Homo sapiens: one gene and its partners. The protein of the gene in region 1 interacts with the protein of each later gene in a pairwise test. Each region holds a gene or a part of one and is shown in the gene's direction. Other genes may lie near its edges.

The links. The genes of interacting proteins can lie anywhere in the genome.
Region 2: the proteins of ARHGEF16 (region 1) and BOLL interact in binary tests that used the Homo sapiens proteins (3 or more experiments, as listed by UniProt).
Region 3: the proteins of ARHGEF16 (region 1) and MAPK1IP1L interact in binary tests that used the Homo sapiens proteins (3 or more experiments, as listed by UniProt).

Annotation. Positions count from the first base shown.
Region 1 is NC_000001.11:3,457,665-3,464,689, forward strand, and holds part of ARHGEF16 (rho guanine nucleotide exchange factor 16), read left to right. Parts: exon of another isoform or gene 1-1,835; coding exon of another isoform or gene 1,836-1,867; intron 1,868-5,401; coding exon of another isoform or gene 5,402-5,420; coding exon 5,421-6,008; intron 6,009-7,025. UniProt on the Homo sapiens protein: Guanyl-nucleotide exchange factor of the RHOG GTPase stimulating the exchange of RHOG-associated GDP for GTP. May play a role in chemotactic cell migration by mediating the activation of RAC1 by EPHA2.
Region 2 is NC_000002.12:197,726,365-197,733,319, reverse strand, and holds the end of BOLL (protein boule-like), read left to right. Parts: intron 1-4,741; coding exon 4,742-4,765; coding exon of another isoform or gene 4,766-4,853; 3' UTR 4,854-6,430; downstream 6,431-6,955. UniProt on the Homo sapiens protein: Probable RNA-binding protein, which may be required during spermatogenesis. May act by binding to the 3'-UTR of mRNAs and regulating their translation.
Region 3 is NC_000014.9:55,054,647-55,061,671, forward strand, and holds part of MAPK1IP1L (MAPK-interacting and spindle-stabilizing protein-like), read left to right. Parts: intron 1-6,508; exon of another isoform or gene 6,509-6,525; coding exon of another isoform or gene 6,526-6,527; intron 6,528-7,025.

The DNA of each region.
Region 1 (7,025 bases):
GGAACGGACAGGCTGGGCAGGGGGCCCTGAGACTGGCCAGCGACCACAGATTCCACCTGCTTGGACCGGCCAGGCGGGGGCCCCTGAGACTGCCCAGAGACCATGGATTCCGCCTGCTCGCCTCTGCTGCACGCCTCCTCCTGGCAAGTCCCTCATGCCCCATAACTATATGTGTTGGGGATACCAGGTGGGGTATTTAGTGGTAAAGAGAAAAGAGAGAGTTCTGGGCCCCAGGGCTCAGCCATGGGAGGTCCTTTCCAGCCCACCCTGAGGAGAAGCAGCAGGAAGTCGCCCAAAAAGTGGCACAGATGGGCCCAGAACCTCTATGGGGCTGCCCTGGCCCAGCCTCTGCTCATTTTGAGCCAAGTCCCCTTGCAAGTTGGTTCTTGGCACGGAACACCAGGGCCTCTCTGGGAAGACACAGAATCAAGGTACTAGGAGACCAGGGCAGAGCACGTGCCGAGGCAGGCATTTGCTCTTCAGTGTGGAATCTGAGCCCGACTGTGGGGACACGAACAGGAAACTGTCCCTGCCCCGCAAGGGCTCACAGACATGGGGAGACAGGACAGCCAGCCAGCCAGCCTGCGGCTCCCTCTGCCCTGTGCATGCCCTGTGCTAAGCCCCCACTCAGCAAGTCAGGGCTGCCTTTGCTGGGGAGCAGATCTGCCACTGGCCCACGTGGCTGCTGCAGGAAATCTGACCTCTCTCTGTGGCACTGCAGCCGGGACAGCATGGCCAGCTGCTGAAAGGAGTCTGCCCTCTCAGCCCCTCCCCTTCACTGGCTCCACCAGGAGCCGACCAGCATCTCAGTGAGGAAATGGAAAGAGGCCACTGTAGAAACCAGCCGGCCTGCAGGACAGGCTTCAGGATATGGACCTGGCATGGGGCTGGGGGTCCCATTGGGCCCTCCCGGTCAGACACCTGTGCTCAGGGTGTGTGCACTTGGACCTCCCGCCATCATAAGGCCTGTCTCCTCAATAGAAGCAGAAACAATCAACCACCAGCAGCAGATGTTTGAGGAAAGCCCTGTGCCTGAGAGACAGAGGCCAGCAGAGGCGGAGACAGGAGGAAGTATGTGGCAGGGGCGCAGCTCCAGCAGCCAGCGACAGAAAGAAAGAAACTCGCTCCAAAGAAAATGTAATCCTTCCTCTCTAAGACAATAGAAGATGTTACACCCATAAAGCAAGAGCAGGATGCCAGGAATGAAGAGCAGAGGGCTCTTTGAGGATAATGAAAATGATAAGACCAGGGGCCAATAAGAAGTCCAAGTAGAGAAAACCTCACACAGAGAACAAAGTAGGGGAGGAAAGGTAAGGAATTAGGAGAAAACACCAGAGCTTAATACTCATTAGTGGGTATTCCAAAAAGAGAAAACAGAGTGGAAGAAATAATATGAAAATCTGCGCAGCCCTAGACAAGAGTGACCGCCTGGCAGGGTTCCACCCAGTGCCTGGCTCAGTGGACTAACATGGACCCTACGGGGGCACATCAGCACGACAATCAGAGCTCCCAGGCTGGCTCAGTGAACGAACACGGACCCTACCGAGGCACATCAGCAAGACAGCCAGAGCTCCCAGGCTCCAGCAGGTGCGCCAGACCCTCAGTGGGGCCAGGGAGAACCACACACCGGTTGTGATCCGAGAAAGAGATCGGGACATTGGGGCCCTTCCCCAGCAACTCTGACAACAAGGGAAGGGCGCTGCCCGACTCTGGGAGAAAACCATCTACAGTGGGAATGCTCATCTCCTCACCAGTCAGGGGAGAGGAAGAAACAAGACATTTTCAGGCAGTCCAAAAGATGGCTCCCATGTGGCTTCCTGGGACAGTGCCTGGGGATGTCCTTCAGGGCAATGAGGGCCGGGAGCAGGTGAGAGGGGCCCCGGAAGCAGCAGAGGAGGTCCTGGGATCCGCCCAGGGTGAGGCCCAGAGCACTGGGCCCTCTGGAGAGGGAGGACGGGGGGTGTCTGGGAAAAACACTGAGCTGGCCTGCCAGACATATAGAATATATTCTCAAGAAGCACATGGCAGAGACGCCAGAACACTCAGGGAAAAATTAACTGGGGAAACCAGGCTGGTCAAATGAGAGAAAATCATTAACAGGACGTGGACAAGGCCCTGCCCTGGGGCTCAGCGCCTTCTGCCGGCACAGGCATCGTGTGATGGGGCCAGCCGTGATGGAGTCCTCGTCCAACAGGCAGGGAGGGGGTAGGAATGCCCATAGGTGGGGGTCACTGAGAGCAGGCTGTGCCTTTTTCTGGGAAAAGCTGAGGAGCCCAGAGCAGTGGCCTCCGGGGATCAGGGCAGTGTGGAAGAGGGGACGCTGGGTTTTCATGCTAAGTCTTTGGTGCTCGTTGACTTTTGAAACGGTGTCTGTGTCTTCATAGTTCTTTAGAAAAACTGAAAAACAGAAGGCAACGGGTGCCTGCCAGGGCCACAGCTCCCGAGAGCCGGCTCCTGGGGGGCTCTGGACTGCCCACACCCCTCAGGCTCTCTGTTAGGCCTGTGGGTGCGGCTGCCTCGCTGGGAGCGGAGGTCACACCCAGCAATGGCTCAGGCTCTGGCTCGCCTGACAGGTTCCCGTTTGGGCGCCTTCTGGCAGTGGAGCAGACTTTGATCTCTCCTGGGACAGCTGCTGCCAGCCAGGGCCAGGACACCGTCTCAGAGGACGTGGTCAGGGACAGTCAGGCCTGGGCAGTCTGGCCCCATTAGGAAGGAGGAAGGCCTCTATGAGAGTCAGAAGGTTGAGACAGTGCAGGCTGGGGTCTCTGTATTTGGGGGCTGTGGGGTCTTGGGGACATTTGTTTGGTGGGAGATGGGGCACAGTGATGTTGTGGGCATGTCAACCCACATCAAATGCCCCCCAGGTAAAGTCATCACATTTAGAATAAAAGGACCGCAGGGCCGTAGACCGCCTACGCTGGCCACCCACTGGAGTGTGCTCTGCTTGGCGTGTAGACAGAAGCCTAAAAGAAATGGATTTCTCGGCCGGGCCTGGGTAAAACGCAGACACCCTACTGTGAGCGGGTGATCCTGGGATGGTGCAGACCAGCGTCACTCTGGTCAGTGTCATGGACACCAGCCCCGGGGGAGGCCTGTTGTGTCTGCCGCTGTCCTTGACCAGTGATTTGGAATGTCCTGAGGAATGTACCCTCCCGGCCAGCGTGGGGGCCGTCCCTCCCTGGGGCCTGGGAGGCTCAGCCGCACGTGCCTTCCTGGGATGGTTTTAGCAGAGAATTTGTGTCCTGGGAGAGTTTGGTGGCTCCCGGGGCTGAGCAGGGACAGAGGGGTGTCCCAGGTGCCCTGTGGACACTCCAAAGGTGCTAATCCAGGTCAGTTGTGTGGCTGACTGTAGGCAACCTCCCTGCAGGAAGTGACTTTGGGCGAGTGACTCAGCCTTGTTTTCCCATCAGAAAAATCAGTTTCCACCCGCAAGAGACTCCGGTCATTTTCATGTGTGTGACGTTCTGGGTGTATAGGAGGCATACTGAGTGGTGGTGGTTATTGTTTTTATCTTTATTTTTTAAAAGGGAAAGAATGAAAGCAGCGAGTTTTCTCCATGTCGTTACCTTTTGAACCTACGAAGCTCCCTGAGCATAGGGAGCATGAGCTTGTCTGTGATTCGGCAAGGCCTTGGTCACTGCGGCGCAGACGCAGGCCTCACACCGGCCAGGCCTGTTACACGCTTTGCACGCTTTACACTTCCCACCGTACCTTCAGGAGGTGGGCCTTGCTCTTATCATGCCCATTTTGCAGATTTTGAAACTGAGGCACGGAGAGGCAGCGTCACTTGCTCATTGACCACATGCCTGGGTCAGGGCTGCTCCCTGACACGTGTGGGGAGCCCCTGAGCAGCAGAGGGGAAAGCTGGGAGGCCTGAGAGACCAGACCCTCGGAATCCATTGCTCAGTGGCCTGAGGGTTGCAAGTGCCCAGGGGGGTTGCAAGCAGCCCGGGGCGTGAAAGCTCACTGTGGGCCTGACCGCTGTGGCCGAGCAATGCGCCGTCACTCAGGAGGTGATGTGTAGCCACAACAGCCCCGCAAAGTGCCTGGAAACAGACCTCTGGGCCCGGCTCCTGGAGGCCGTGTCGGCTGGGGGCTCTGCACATCTCGGTCACACGGGGTCCAGGCCATTGAGGCTCTGCCTGGCCACGCGTGCCTATAGTCATGGCAGCCAGGGAAGACGCAGAGGCAGGTCGAGAGCTGGCTCTCCACATTCCTACCTGGCAGGCACGTATGTCCCAAAGCCAGTCTCAGGACTGTGCCATTCCCAAGGGGCAGAAGGGCAGCCCTGCCTCGGGTCTGGAAGGAGGAAAGTGAGAAATGGGAAGCAGTAGTGTCAGGGGCAGGGTGCCAGCCCCGGACCATGAAGGGAACAGTGGGGTAGAGATGGGCTCGGGGGCACGCGCTGCCAGGAGGGGCGGGCAGGAGTGTGGCGGGGGCGGGGCAGCCCACGGGGTGTGGGGATCGGGCTACAGAGATGTCTACAGGGCAGCTCCCGCTCTCTGCTGGGGGGTGTACGTGGGACTGTGGGCTGCCACCCCTGCCACCACCACACCTGCCCAGTGGCCAGGTGTCATACTGGACTCTCGGGCTGGTGACTGGTGGGGCTCCTGAGACCAGAATTGTCAGCTTTATGCCCAGTTCAGAAACGTGGAAAAATGCAAGCGTGTTGCCTGGTGTGTGGAAAGGTTCCATGGACAGTCCGCGACAGTCATATCACTGTGTGGCTAAGAGAGGGGAATCACACAGGCCTGGGCTCGGGCCGGGAGCATGTGGGCAAATGCACCTGCCCTCCCCCCAACCCAGCAGAGCCTGGCTCAGGTGCCTGGAAGACCCCAATGAGGCAGAGGCTGTGGTCACTGCCGCTGTGGCTGATGCCGGCCTCAGGAAGCCCCCCAGTGCAACGCCATGACCCTTGCGTTCACCACGAGGAAGTGGTTCCAGGAGGCTGCATGGCTGCCAGGTGTGAGCCAGGATTCCAGGCCAGGTCTTCAGGGCTCCAGGGCCATGCACCTGAGCTGCCCCACCTGCCTCCAGGCTCAGGAATGTGTCCTCAGTGCGTGCTGCCCATCAGAGGAAGCAGTGTGGCCTCCCAACCTCCAAGGTCCAGCCTACCCCCATAGGCTGTGCCCACCTGGTCCCTTGGAGCTCGGAGAACCAGCGCCTGCCCAGTCCCATCCTGTGTCCAGCCTCCGGCCTCAGACATGGCTGGCTCCCAGTGGTCAGGACTGGCTGTGCCACTGATCCACTGTGCTCCTGGCTGCGTCGCTGTCCTTGCCTGCTGTGTCCTGGGAGCTGTACTGGAGCCCCGGCCAGACATATGCAAAGGGGTAGGGGGGTGGACACCCGCGGGGGCAGGGGAGAGCAGCCTCACGAGACCTCACTTCTGCCCTTCCCCCAGGACCCCACAGCCGCCCAGCATGGCCCAGCGGCACTCAGACAGCTCCTTGGAGGAGAAGCTCCTGGGACACCGCTTCCACTCGGAGCTCCGGCTCGATGCCGGGGGGAACCCAGCCTCCGGGCTCCCAATGGTCCGTGGCTCCCCGCGTGTTAGAGACGATGCCGCCTTCCAGCCCCAGGTCCCGGCACCCCCACAGCCTCGGCCCCCGGGGCACGAGGAGCCATGGCCCATCGTCCTGAGCACAGAGAGCCCGGCGGCCCTCAAGCTGGGCACCCAACAGCTGATCCCTAAGAGCCTGGCTGTGGCCAGCAAGGCAAAGACCCCAGCCCGCCACCAGAGCTTCGGGGCGGCTGTACTTAGCAGGGAGGCCGCCCGGCGGGACCCTAAGCTCCTCCCAGCCCCCAGCTTCTCCCTGGATGACATGGACGTGGACAAGGACCCCGGGGGCATGCTGAGGCGGAACCTGCGGAACCAATCCTACCGGGCGGCCATGAAGGGCCTGGGGAAGCCAGGTGGCCAGGGAGATGCCATCCAGCTAAGCCCTAAGCTCCAGGCTCTGGCTGAGGAACCCAGCCAGCCTCATACTCGGAGCCCGGCCAAAAACAAGGTAGGGGCCTGCTCGTGTGGACCGTGGGGAGGGGGCTGCTAGGCAGAGGGGCGGCCTGGCCGTCTCCACCACCGTCATCTTCTGCATCATGGCAGCTGCCGTTAGTAAGCACCTGCTGCATGAGGGCTCTCGACTGGTTTATTCCAGTTCAGCCCAGTCTGTGAGTGTGAAGATCCCACCTTACAGATGAGGCAGCAGAGGCTCGGAAAGGTCGAGGGTTCTACCGAGGCCCCCAGACTCTGGTGTCCCCGCTCCCAGCCTTGGTGGAGGGCAGATCCCTGGAAGGGCCCAGTCCCTGTTTCCGAGCTCTGGACAGGAGCCGGCCTGCCTGGATGATAGGGTTCAGGGTGACCTGGCTGCAGTGACTGGCCTGGGCTCCATCTGCCCCGGCAGCTCCAGACAGGGACTCAGGCGGGAGGGACTGAAGCGGGGCAGCTGTGCGGTGGCCTGGGGCTTAGGAGAAGTCTGCACATTCCCTCTGTACACAGAGCCCTGCTTCCCTGCCTGCTGGTGGTGGCTCTAGGTCTGGGGCATGGTGGCGGCAGACCCTTTGCTGGGCAGGGTGTAGCCTGACTGCATGTGTCACTAGGGCCCAGGGGACAGAGCGTCCAGCTGGGGCTCCTGGGCCCAGTGTCCCTCATCCTCGGAGTCACCATCCCCTGCGGCTGGGGGCCAGGCCTTCATTTCAGGCAGCCCTGGAGCTGGAAGCCACGTTCAGGGAGAGTTGCGTGGTACCTGGACACCCACCCAGCCAGGACTGCGACTCTGGCCACCCTGCTTGGTCTCTTTAGCTGGTGGGTCTGGGCTCAGGCAGGGCTGGGGTAGGGGAGGCGAGCTGCCCTGGAACCGCCCATCAGGAGGCCCTGGCAGCCCGAGCACCCTCAAGAATGCAGAGCAGATGCAGGGCTGGCCCCAGGGGCGTCCTTCTTGTTGGGCGCCTTGCTCAGACGTGTTGGAAAACAGGCCCCAAGCATATGGGCTGCCTCAGTGAAGGACGAGGGCGGGGGCAGGTGCTGT
Region 2 (6,955 bases), on another chromosome or scaffold:
TTGTATCCTCTTTTATTTCGTTGAGCAGTGGTTTGTAGTTCTCCTTGAAGAGGTCCTTCACATCCCTTGTAAGTTGGATTCCTAGGTATTTTATTCTCTTTGAAGCAATTGTGAATGGGAGTTCACTCATGATTTGGCTCTCTGTTTGTCTGTTGTTGGTGTATAAGAATGCTTGTGATTTTTGTACATTGATTTTGTATCCTGAGACTTTGCTGAAGTTGCTTATCAGCCTAAGGAGATTTTGGGCTGAGACAATGGGGTTTTCTAGATATACAATCATGTCGTCTGCAAACAGGGACAATTTGACTTCCTCTTTTCCTAATTGAATACCCTTTATTTCCTTCTCCTGCCTAATTGCCCTGGCCAGAACTTCCAACACTATGTTGAATAGGAGTGGTGAGAGAGGGCATCCCCGTCTTGTGCCAGTTTTCAAAGGGAATGCTTCCAGTTTTTGCCCATTCAGTATGATATTGGCTGTGGGTTTGTCATAGATAGCTCTTATTATTTTGAAATACGTCCCATCAATACCTAATTTATTGAGAGTTTTTAGCATGAAGGGTTGTTGAATTTTGTCAAAGGCTTTTTCTGCATCTATTCAGATAATCATGTGGTTTTTGTCTTTGGCTCTGTTTATATGCTGGATTACATTTATTGATTTGCGTATATTGAACCAGTCTTGCATCCCAGGGATGAAGCCCACTTGATCATGGTGGATAAGCTTTTTGATGTGCTGCTGGATTCATTTTGCCAGTATTTTATTGAGGATTTTTGCATCAATGTTCATCAAGGATATTGGTCTAAAATTCTCTTTTTTTGTTGTGTCTCTTCCTGGCTTTGGTATCAGAATGATGCTGGCCTCATAAAATGAGTTAGGGAGGATTCCCTCTTTTTCTATTGATTGGAATAGTTTCAGAAGGAATGGTACCAGTTGTTCCTTGTACCTCTGGTAGAATTCAGCTGTGAATCCATCTGGTCCTGGACTCTTTTTGGTTGGTAAGCTATTGATTATTGCCACAATTTCAGCTCCTGTTATTGGTCTATTCAGAGATTCAACTTCTTCCTGGTTTAGTCTTGGGAGAGTGTATGTGTCGAGAAATTTATCCATTTCTTCTAGATTTTCTAGTTTATTTGCGTAGAGGTGTTTGTAGTATTCTCTGATGGTAGTTTGTATTTCTGTGGGCTCGGTGGTGATATCCCCTTTATCATTTTTTATTGCGTCTATTTGATTCTTCTCTCTTTTTTTCTTTATTAGTCTTGCTAGCGGTCTATCAATTTTGTTGATCCTTTCAAAAAACCAGCTCCTGGATTCATTAATTTTTTGAAGGGTTTTTTGTGTCTCTATTTCCTTCAGTTCTGCTCTTAGTTATTTCTTGCCTTCTGCTAGCTTTTGAATGTGTTTGCTCTTGCTTTTCTAGTTCTTTTAATTGTGAGGTTAGGGTGTCAATTTTGTATCTTTCCTGCTTTCTCTTGTGGGCATTTAGTGCTATAAATTTCTCTCTACACACTGCTTTGAATGCGTCCCAGAGATTCTGGTATGTTGTGTCTTTGCTCTCGTTGGTTTCAAAGAACATCTTTATTTCTGCCTTCATTTTGTTATGTACCCAGTAGTCATTCAGGAGCAGGTTGTTCAGTTTCCATGTATTTGAGCAGTTTTGAGTGAGATTCTTAATCCTGAGTTCTAGTTTGATTGCACTGTGGTCTGAGAGATAGTTTGTTATAATTTCTGTTCTTTTACATTTGCTGAGGAGAGCTTTACTTCCAACTATGTGGTCAATTTTGGAATAGGTGTGGTGTGGTGCTGAAAAAAATGTATATTCTGTTGATTTGGGGTGGAGAGTTCTGTAGATGTCTGTTAGGTCTGCTTGGTGCAGAGCTGAGTTCAATTCCTGGGTATCCTTGTTGACTTTCTGTCTCGTTGATCTGTCTAATGTTGACAGTGGGGTGTTAAAGTCTCCCATTATTAATGTGTGGGAGTCTAAGTCTCTTTGTAGGTCACTCAGGACTTGCTTTATGAATCTTGGTGCTCCTGTATTGGGTGCATATATATTTAGGATAGTTAGCTCTTCTTGTTGAACTGATCCCTTTACCATTATGTAATGGCCTTCTTTGTCTCTTTTGATCTTTGTTGGTTTAAAGTCTGTTTTATCCAAGACCAGGATTGCAACCCCTGCCTTTTTTTGTTTTCCATTGGCTTGGTAGGTCTTCCTCCATCCTTTTATTTTGAGCCTATGTGTGTCTCTGCAAGTGAGGTGGGTTTCCTGAATACAGCACACTGATGGGTCTTGACTCTTTATCCAATTTGCCAGTCTGTGTCTTTTAATTGGAGCATTTAGTCCATTTACATTTAAAGTTAATATTGTTATGTGTGAATTTGATCCTGTCATTATGATGTTAGCTGGTTATTTTTCTCATTAGTTGATGCAGTTTCTTCCTAGTCTCGATGGTCTTTACATTTTGGCATGATTTTGCAGCGGCTGGTACCGGTTGTTCCTTTCCATGTTTAGTGCTTCCTTTAGGAGCTCTTGTAAGGCAGGCCTGGTGGTGACAAAATCTCTCAGCATTTGCTTGTCTGTAAAAGATTTTATTTCTCCTTCACTTATGAAGCTTAGTTTGGCTGGATATGAAATTCTGGGTTGAAAATTCTTTTCTTTAAGAATGTTGAATATTGGCCCCCACTCTCTTCTGGCTTGTAGGGTTTCTGCCGAGAGATCCGCTGTTAGTCTGATGGGCTTCCCTTTGAGGGTAACCCGACCTTTCTCTCTGGCTGCCCTCAACATTTTTTCCTTCATTTCAACTTTGGTGAATCTGACAATTATGTGTCTTGGAGTTGCTCTTCTCGAGGAGTATCTTTGTGGCGTTCTCTGTATTTCCTGAATCTGAACGTTGGCCTGCCTTGCTAGATTGGGGAAGTTCTCCTGGATAATATCCTGCAGAGTGTTTTCCAACTTGGTTCCATTCTCCCCATCACTTTCAGGTACACCAGTCAGACGTAGATTTGGTCTTTTCACATAGTCCCATATTTCTTGGAGGCTTTGCTCATTTCTTTTTATTCTTTTTTCTCTAAACTTCCCTTCTCGCTTCATTTCATTCATTTCATCTTCCATCGCTGATACCCTTTCTTCCAGTTGATCGCATTGGCTCCTGAGGCTTCTTCATTCTTCACGTAGTTCTCGAGCCTTGGTTTTCAGCTCCATCAGCTCCTTTAAGCACTTCTCTGTATTGGTTATTCTAGTTATACATTCTTCTAAATTTTTTTCAAAGTTTTCAACTTCTTTGCCTTTGGTTTGAATGTCCTCCCGTAGCTCAGAGTAATTTGATCGTCTGAAGCCTTCTTCTCTCAGCTCGTCAAAGTCATTCCCCATCCAGCTTTGTTCTGTTGCTGGTGAGGAACTGCGTTCCTTTGGAGGAGGAGAGACACTCTGCTTTTTAGAGTTTCCAGTTTTTCTGTTCTGTTTTTTCCCCATCTTTGTGGTTTTATCTACTTTTGGTCTTTGATGATGGTGATGTACAGATGGGTTTTTGGTGTGGATGTCCTTTCTGTTTGTTAGTTTTCCTTCTAACAGAGAGGACCCTCAGCTGCAGGTCTGTTGGAATACCCTGCCCTGTGAGGTGTCAGTGTGCCCCTGGTGGGGGGTGCCTCCCAGTTAGGCTGCTTGGGGGTCAGGGGTCAGGGACCCACTTGAGGAGGCAGTCTGCCCGTTCTCAGATCTCCAGCTGCATGCTGGGAAAACCACTGCTCTCTTCAAAGCTGTCAGACAGGGACATTTAAGTCTGCAGAGGTTACTGATCTTTTTGTTTGTCTGTGCCCTGCCCCCAGAGGTGGAGCCTACAGAGGCAGGCAGGCCTCCTTGAGCTGTGCTGGGCTCCACCCAGTTGGAGCTTCCCAGCTGCTTTGTTTACCTAATCAAGCCTGGGCAATGGCGGGCGCCCCTCCCCCAGCCTCGCTGCCGCCTTGCAGTTAGAGCTCAGACTGCTGTGCTAGCAATCAGCGAGACTCCGTGGGCGTAGGACCCTCCGAGCCAGGTGCGAGATATAATCTCGTGGTGCGCCGTTTTTTAAGCCCGTCGGAAAAGCGCAGTAGTGACCCGATTTTCCAGGTGCCGTCCATCACCCCTTTCTTTGACTCAGAAAGGGAACTCCCTGACCCCTTGCGCTTCCCAAGTGAGGCAATGCCTCGCCCTGCTTCAGCTTGCGCACGGTGCACGCACCCACTGACCTGCGCCCACTGTCTGGCACTCCCTAGTGAGATGAACCCGGTACCTCAGATGGAAATGCAGAAATCACCCGTCTTCTGCGTCGCTCACGCTGGGAGCTGTAGACCGGAGCTGTTCCTATTCGGCCATCTTGGCTCCTCCCCTGGACAGCGTTCTAAATAGCCTCCTGCCAAAAATACTATTCCCCTTTTAAAAACAAGTTTTTAAGACCCACCTAATAGAAGGAAATGTTGTAACTCGTAATCTGTGCTGACCCATCCCTCATTTTATTTACTCAACATTTATACTGTAACACTAGACTAGAGATTGTCTAATATAGATTCTAAGCTCTCAGAGAGCAGGTTTTCCTGAGTTCTGGAGCCCTCCTAAATTGCTAGCCTCTCACTTTGTAACATTCTAATTTAATTGGTACCAAGGTTCTGCAAATATTTAGTGAATGTTGATTGATGGTCTGTACTCATCTGTTCTAACTTATCTTTTTTTTTCCATTCAGTCTTCCTGATCTATATTTTCTCTTTACTTAACAGACAGTGTGGAGCATTCATTATTAAGACAATTGGGCAGCTCTATTCCAGCTCAACTGATTTCTTGTCCAATGATCCTTGCGTGGCCGAGATCCAGCTTCAACGAACCAGCTAGAAGCTGCCCGTTGTGAAACTTAGTGTTAGTTAATACCTCACCATACTCAGTTATTCCACTATAAGCTGTCTAAATTTGATGAAATTTGCTTTTTCAGCTGTTCTACAAAATTATTTAGGTAGATGTGGCATGTTGGTTTTTTATGTGCTAACCTAACTGTAATGACCTTTTCTACAACATGTTTTATCCATTCCATAAATAATAACCACATTGGGAATAGTGAGGTGTCTTTTATTTTCTCTGCTTTGTGTTATTTTTTCTTATCAAACAATTAGATGTTATGTTTCATATTATTTGATATTTATTTTCATATTTAGGATAAGAATCATTTTTAATTATAATACTTTTAATACTTTCATATATTTTACAACAGTATACTATTTAATATTAATGACAATTCTATTTTTGCTTTGCTGTTTTGTCATTTAATATGCTTTTGTCTAATTTTTAATTCATTTATTACTGTTACTCCTTATTTAATTTTGCGTCTGCCATGGTTTTCAGAATCTGAATAGTATTTATACTTCTTTTTTATAACATTTTCCAAATATTAGAAATACCATCAACATGATCAGTATTCTTGCCTTTTCATGTAATTTGACTATATTAAATTTTTTCTCCAGTGTTTGAGACAATATTGAAATCTTCCTATAACATAATTTATTTGGTATCAAATTTTATAAAATATGGATCCACCTTTGGAATTTTGATAAAAGGGTTCATCTCTGACATGATCCCATAACACTGACTGAAATTCCACCAAATTACTGTTCTTTGAATGCTTTAATCCTTAAACCTTTTCTTCTGATATGCAACCAATATATTCAATTATATATGTGATTAATTTTTAAAAGGACAATTGTTTTCATAAAATGCAAAACTATTTTTTACACCAAAGGAAAATTTTAGATTCTGATTCTAAATCCGATTTTTACTATAAAATTGGAAAATAGATGGGAGGGGTGTCATTCATTGTTCAAAAGGTACAGAACAAATCATAGGGGTTTTTAATCTCTAAAATTTCTACAGTAGTACAGGAAATATTCCTCTTTACATTCATTTGCAGTTCTTTCACTGACCTCCTAATTTTAGGTGGAGGGGGCAGGGGGAGCCATAAAAGTTGGTATTACCCTAATAAATCTATCTCTTTCCTCCCCTGTTTCAACCCCACATGTATTCCATGCTCAGCAGCAGCAGCAGAAATAGTAGGATATAGATCACAAAGGTTTTTCTGGTGAGTCAAATAGGGTGTTTTCTTTTGAAACTGTAATGAATATGTTTGCCAGTCAAATGGCTTCATGAGAACAGTAGAACCTTATGAATGTATACTAGCATACAAGGATCTCAAATACATTAATTATTCTCAGTTTTAGGAATGTAAATAGATTAAGTCCCACAATGAAATTTCAGAAGTTTTTGTTCTGTAAGTAAAAAATTACTAACCACTGATGTTCAAGATTTTCTTTTAATAGCACTATCCTTGAGAACCAAAAAGTTTATGTTTTGATTTTCAAATGTTAAACAAGATGCTAAACAAATCCTGGACTGTTAATAAAAATTAATTATGTATTATTGGATAAGGAATTTTGATGATAATTGATACCCAAGTGTGTTTCTTCCACAACTATATAGATTATATGCATACACATATATACATGTTTATATGCATATATACACACACATATATAATTTATACATATGCACTTTCTTAGAATTTAGCTTTATTTTGAGAAGCTACTAAAAATTTTGGGAGTTTGACAATCTGAATAAATGGAGGATATCATACAGCCTTCTTCATGGCCTAGCTTAATAGCCCAAACATGTTACTTTTTTTTTTTTTTTTTTTTTTTTTAAGAGACTGTCTTGCTCTGGGGCCCAGGTTGGAATGCAGTTATGCGATCATGGCTCACTGTGACCTCAAACTCCTGGGCTTAAGCCATCCTTTCACCTCAGCCTCCCTAGTAGCTAGGATTACAGGCATGCACCACCACACCCAGCTAATTTTTTATTTTTTGTAGAGACAGGGTCTTACTAGGTTCCCCAAGCTGGTCTCAAACTCCTGGGCTCAAGTGATCTTCCTACTTTGGCCATCCAAAGTGCTG
Region 3 (7,025 bases), on another chromosome or scaffold:
TTGTCAAAAGATAACCGTCAAAAGGATTCATGTCCGGGTTTCATCACTGTGTAGTCCCATACTGTTTATCACTCCATCACAATTTGAAGGCTGTCTGAAATATCCATGAACTCCACTGGTAATTCATGGAGTTCAACTCTCTTAACCACCCTCCTCCCTGACCCATGATTTTTACCCTAACAGCCATGAGAGTTTCCAAAAATGTTATGTTTTACTTTTCTAGTGTATGTCAAAAGACATTTTGTACTGTTTTAAAATTACTATTCTTGCTATTCAAAGAATAAAAAGTATTGTTTTTCAGATGATGGGTGGATCATGCTATAAAATGGTAACAAAGTTTTGGAAATAATAGCTTTAGATTATTCCAAAAAGAAAAAAAAGAAAGCCTTTCTTGAGTATAAATTGTTTTTATGAGTTCAAGGTTACATTGGCCTCATCTTAATAATTAGCGATGATTCAGATATTTTGGAATAGCTTTATATTTTTATTTATTTTTCTTTTTGAGACAGAGTGCCACTAATATTGCCCAGGCTGGTCTCTTAACTACTGGCCTCAAGCGGTCTTCCCACCTCAGCCTCCTGAGAAGCTGGGATTACAGGTGCACACTACCAAGCGCGGCTTAGAATAGCTTTTTAGAAAACCTAAACTTTTTATGTTCTGCAACTCTCCTCATATTGAAACGTTCATGTCCAACTGTTTTTCACCTTTTCTAATGAAAGTATTCTCCAAAGAACAAATTGGAATGCTTCCAATTATAGTTGTTCCCCCTTATCCTAGGGGGACACATTGCAAGACTCCCCAATGAATCCCTGAAACTGAAGTCTGTATACACTGCCGAAGCCTAAGTATACCATGTTTTTTAGATCTAATAACCAAGATGGGCTGATAGCGTATACAGCATGGATACACTGGACAAAGGGATGATTCACGTCCTAGGCAGGAGGGGGCAAACTTTCATTTTGCTACTCAGAACATGCTCTTGCCCCATTTAAAACTTAGGAATTGGCCAGGTGCAGTGGTTCATGCCTAATCCCAGCACTTTGGGAGACTGAGGTGGGCGGATTACTTGAGGCCAGGAGTTTGAGACCAGCCTGGCCAACATGGTGAAACCCCGTCTCTACCAAAAATTAAAAATTAGCCGGGCGTGGTGGCACGTGCCTATAATCCCAGCTACTTGAGAGGCTCAGGTAGGAGAATCACTTAAACCTGGGAGGCGGAGGTTGCAGTGAGTCAAGATCACACTACTGCACTTTAGCCTGGGTGGCAGAGCGAGACTCCATCTCAAAAACAAAACAAAAAACTTACGAATTATTTATTTCTGGAATTTTTCATTTAATATGTTCGGACCTTAGGTAATTAAAACCACAGATAAGGGGGGATCACCCTAACATGAACGCTGTTTATTCTAGGAATGGAGAGCTGGTCACTTTACTAAGACAGTGCCGTAGAACAGAACTTGTTACTAATTCCTATGCTTAGGGCTTTGTTTTTTAATCACAAGATTCTAGCACCTCCCCTATCTTCCAGACTTGGATTTTGAACTTTAAAATTTTGAAGTAGTGTTGTGAATCAGTTGAATATTATTAACTTGTAGAATAATTTATGTAATTCCATGACTAGGTAACTGTATAATTCTGAAAACCTGAACAGTCAAGGCCATTTGGTTCACTTTGATTCTCAACTCCAGAATTAATATGAACTTTGATACAGAATCATTTTCTATTTCAGAAAGGCTAACCCTGTTTAAAAAGCATGTTAGCCTTACAACTTACCGTATATTTTCTACACTGTTAGTCCTAAAAATTTTATTGTGTGATGTGATTGACGTTAAACCTTAACATGGGAATGGGTTGTATGTGGGTTTTTTTGTTTTTTTGTTTTTGAGACGGAGTTTGCACTGTCACCCAGGCTGGAGTGCAGTGGCTTGATCTCAGCTCACTGCAAGCTCCGCCTCCTGGGTTCGCGCCATTCTCTTGCCTCAGCCTCCTGAGTAGCTGGGACTACAGGTGCCCACCATTATGCCTGGCTAATTTTTTGTATTTTTAGTAGAGACGGGGTTTCACCTTGTTAGCCAGGATGGTCTCAATCTCCTGACTTCGTGATCCGCCCTCCTCGGCCTCCCAAAGTGCTGGGATTACAGGCGTGAGCCACCGCGCCCGGCCATGTTTTTTGATATTCTGAATAAAAAGGATATAGCAGTTGGGATAGGCTTGGGTTCTTGTCCTTTATGTTCTTGTCCTTTCCTCATGATAATCAAATCATAATTAGAAATAAGATGCTAAGAATACAAAGGTGGCTCTATGTTAATACTGTATTGATAGGTCAAAGGAGAAAAAGCATGAGATCAATTCATTAGATACTGAAAAGTCTTTTGAGGGAATTTAATGTCTTCTTGCTTTCTTTATTAACAGAATAGGAATAAATAATAGCATAGGCATAAATTAAAAATAATGTAATTTTTTAAAATCTCAAACTAAAAATGGGAATCATACTTAAACATTAGCATTCCCAGGAGAGTTGGAGCAAGACCTCTGTGCCCACTATCACTCAACATTTCATTATTTAAGTCCTAGCAAGTGCAAAACAGAAAAGATGCATAAATATTAGAGAAGGAAAGTTATTTTTTGCAAATGGCGTATTTTTTATCTGGAAATACCAGAGAATCAAGTGAGAAACTTTGAAGAATAAAATAATTCAGTAATGATGCTTCCTACCCTAGGTTAATTAATATAAAGAAGAGTTAAATTCCTATGGCATATTTCTGGTAACAAAAACATCACTAAACTTTTAAATAAAACCCAAAACACTTCTAGTATTAAACATTTAAATGAGCTGGGCGCAGTGGCTCACGCCTGTAATCCCAGCACTTTGGGAGGCCAAGGTGGGCGGATCACAAGGTCAAGAGATGGAGACCATCCTGGACAACATGGTGAAACCCCGTCTCTACTAAAAATACAAAAATTAGTGGGTGTAGTGGCCCGCACCTGTAGTCCCAGCTACTCAGGAGACTGAGGCACGAGAATCGCTTAAACTGAGGAGGCGGAGGTTACAGTGAACCAAGATCGCGCCACTGCACTCCAGTCTGGCGACAGAGCGAGACTCCATCTCAAAAAAAAAAAAAAATTTAAATGATTTCTACTAAAAATTTTAAAAATTAGCATGCCTATGGTCCCAGCTACTCAAAGGCTAAGGTGGGAGGATCCACTTGAGCCTGGGAGGTGGAGGTTGCAGTGAGCTGTGATCACACCACTGCACTCCAGCCTCGGTGACAGAGCAAGACCCTGTCTCAAAAAAAAATTGAATGAATGTGAGCTGTGTATACATTTAAGAAAGATTAATAAAAAGATAATTATTTGCCTCCCTCTTCCAGTTCAGGGTCTCAATGGCTGGAGCCTTTCTTGGCAATTCAGAGTCCAAGTTGGGAACCAGCCCTGAACTGGACGCCATCCCAGCACAGGGTGCTCTCACCTACACCCACGCTCACAGACTGGGCCGCGTAGACACATCCATTCATGTGCATCTTTGGGATATGGGAGGAAACTGGAGTACTTGGAGAAGACCCATAAAGATGGGAGAATGAGCCAGCTTCACACAGACAGTGACCTCAGCTGAGACTTTTTGTTTTTTCTTCTCATCAACATTATAACAAAACAAAGTTGAATGAAACGTCTTTCGAGGACCTGCTATAGACTAAAATTTTAAAACCCTGTCCCATATATGAACGAACAATTAGAAAATACAGTAGAAGAAAAGAGCCTATTTACAACCACAGGGAAAAGTTTAACAGAAATCCCTTAAAAGAAATGTATATAGGAGATCTGATCAAGAAAATAAACTACATGAAAAGGACAGGAACTAAACAGTCCTCTGTGTCTGCATTTGCGGGTAGAAAATATTCAGGGAGCCGGGTGCGGTGGCTCATGCCTGTAATCCCAGCACTTTGGGAGGCTGAGGCGGGCGGATCACGTGAGGCCAGGAGTTCAAGAGCAGCCTGGCCAACGTGGTGAAACCCTGTCTCTATTAAAAATACAAAAAATTAGCCGGGCATGGCGGCGCTTGCCTATAATCCCAGTTACTCAGGAGGCTGAGGCAGGAGAATCTCTTGAACCCAGGAGATGGAGGTTGCAGTGAGCTGACATCATGCTATTGCACTCTAGCCTGGGCAACAGAGTGAGACCCTGTCTCAAAAAAAAAAAAATACTTGGGGGAAACAATAAAAATAACCATAGAAAATATAAGTTAATATAATTATATAGTATTCACACTTTTAAGTATTATAAATAATATAGAGATGATTTATACGGGAAGATGTGCATAGGTTATATGCAAATACTACACCATTTTATATCAGGTACTTGAGCATCCTGGGATTTGAGTATCTATGGGGGTCCTAGAACCAATCTCCCTCAGGTACCGAGGGACTATACTATACCTTGTTCTTGAACGAGATGATTTGACATTTTAAATAGATGTTCCCCTAGATTAATCTGTAAATATAATACATTTCCAACCAGAATGCTAACACATTAATTTTTTTTTTTAACGATCTGGAAAAAATAAAAATACATAGGAAAATCTGAAAAAAAAAAAAAAAAAAAAGACAGTAGGGTGACTCACATTAATGTTTATTTAAAATATATTGTAAAGCTTCTGTAATTAAAATGGAATGGTACAGTTGCAGACCAGTAGAAAAGAATAAAGTCAGCTGGGCACAGTATCTCACGCCTGTAATCCCAAGACTTTGGGAGGCCGAGGCAGGCAGATCACTTGAGCTCCGGAGTTCAAGACCAGCCTGGGCAACATGGTGAAACTCCATCTCTACAAAAAAACTAGCTGGGCAGGATCGATTGAGCCCAGAAGGTCGAGTCTGCAGTGAGCTTATGATGGTGCCACTGCACTCTGGCCAGGGAACAAAGCAAGACTGTTTCAAAAAGAAAAGAATAAAGTCCACAATATCTGTGGGAAATGAAGGAGGCTCTATAGCCTGCTTGTTAAGAGCCTAAGTTCTGGAGTCATACTGGGTTTGAACTGCTTCTCTCCTTGTCATTAGCTCTGGGACCTTAAACAAGTTAACTTGCCAAGCTTCCTCTTCTCCAGCTGTAAACTGGGGGTGAAAATAAAATTTGTATCTGGGTTCTGGAGCTACCAAGTGAGGTGGTGCACAGTACACCACCATGTTCCATGTTTCATGGTAAATATTGGATAGATGCTAGTTATAAATGGCAGCAGTATAGTGTAGTAAAGGTAGCTTGTCCAATTAGCTGAGAAAAGATAGATAGTTGATAATTATTGTTTGGAAGAATTTAAAGGTTTTAAACAAGAAGTTAAACCATAAAAATACTATATGAAAGCAAGGCAGAGTAGGGAAGGCCTTTGTAAATATATCACAAAATCCAGAAGCCACGTATAGGAAAACATTGATAGATTTGATGACATGAAATTTAAAACTTTTGTATAACCAAAATATGCCCTTTAAGAGATCTACAGATAAAAGGAATTTTGGAGAAATTTTTTTTTTTTTTTTTTTTTTTTTTTTTTTTTTTGATATGGAGTAGCCCTCCGTTGCCCAGGCTGGAGTGCAGTGGCGCAATCTCGGCTCACTGCAAGCTCCGCCTCCCAGGTTCATGCCATTCTCCTGCCTCAGCCTCCCAAGTAGCTGGGACTACAGGCACCCGCCACCACACTGGGCTAATCGTTTTTTTGTATTTTTAGTAGAGACGGGGTTTCACCGTGTTAGCCAGGATGGTCTCGATCTCTTGACCTCGTGATCCGCCTGCCTCGGCCTCCCAAAGTGCTGGGATTATAGGCGTGAGCCACTGCACCCGGCCAAAAAATTTTAATCTCATATATGAAAGCTAGTCTGCTTAGTATCTTACAAAGCAGTGAGAGAAAAAGATGTGCTACTGAGTAATAAAATGATCAAAGGCAAAGAGTACCTACAGTCTTTTATTTATATAAAGTCAAAGAACAAGCAAAATTAAGTCAAAAATTGACTGCCATGAGGCAAGGTAGTTGATTGGAAAAGAGCATGAGTAAACTTTCTGGAGTGAGAAATGTTCTGTATCTTGGGGTGGTTATAGGGGCGTATACAATTATCAGAGCTTGTTAATCTGAACACTTAAGATCTCTGCATTTTGTTGAGTGCTAATTACACTTCAATTTAAAAATTGGTAAAAGTACTCCAGGACATCAATAAATTTAAATTTGGGAGTACACACAGTGGCTCATGGCTATAATCCCAATACTTTGGGAGGCTGAGGCAGGAGGGTCCTTTGATCCCAGGAGTTTGAGACCGGGTCTGGGCAACATAGTGAGACACCTGTCTCTGCAATAAATTTTTAAAATTTTAAGAAATTTGCTGGGCATGATGGCACACACCTGTAGTACCGGCTATTAGGGAGACTGAGGCAAGAAGATGACTTGAGCCCAGGAGGTCAAGATTGCAGTGAGCTGTGATCTCTCTCGCCACTGCACTCCAGCCTGGGTGACAGAATGAGACCCTGTCTCCAAAAAAAAGACGAGGAAATGTAAGTTAAAATAAGACGCTAATTTTTAATATCTATTGTCATTATAAACAATAAATTTAATAATATCCAGTGGTAAAAGGAGTTAGAGAAATGAGTGTAAATTGGCATGGACTTTTCAAATGGATTTTAGATAAATTTATCTGTTGACTCTAAATTCCATGTCCAGTGCTTTTTCCTGGTGTTAGATTCTCACACACAAACAAAGAAGTGTTGAGAGATGTTCACTGTATCATACTTAAAACAACTTATACTGCTACAAAAAGAAGGTAAATTAAATTGCAAATCATTTTTGTATGATGTGCAGCCATTAAAAGGGATGAAGTTAATAGAGCTGTATGAACTATTATGGAAAACTTTCCTATGTAAAGAAAAACACATTACATAAATAAGATTCCGCTTAAGTAATAATAATGTATGCATAGAAAGTTCCTTAAGGAATATTTAAGAAATGGTGAACACTGATTTTGAAATTTTTCTTTCTTCCTTCATTTCTTTTCT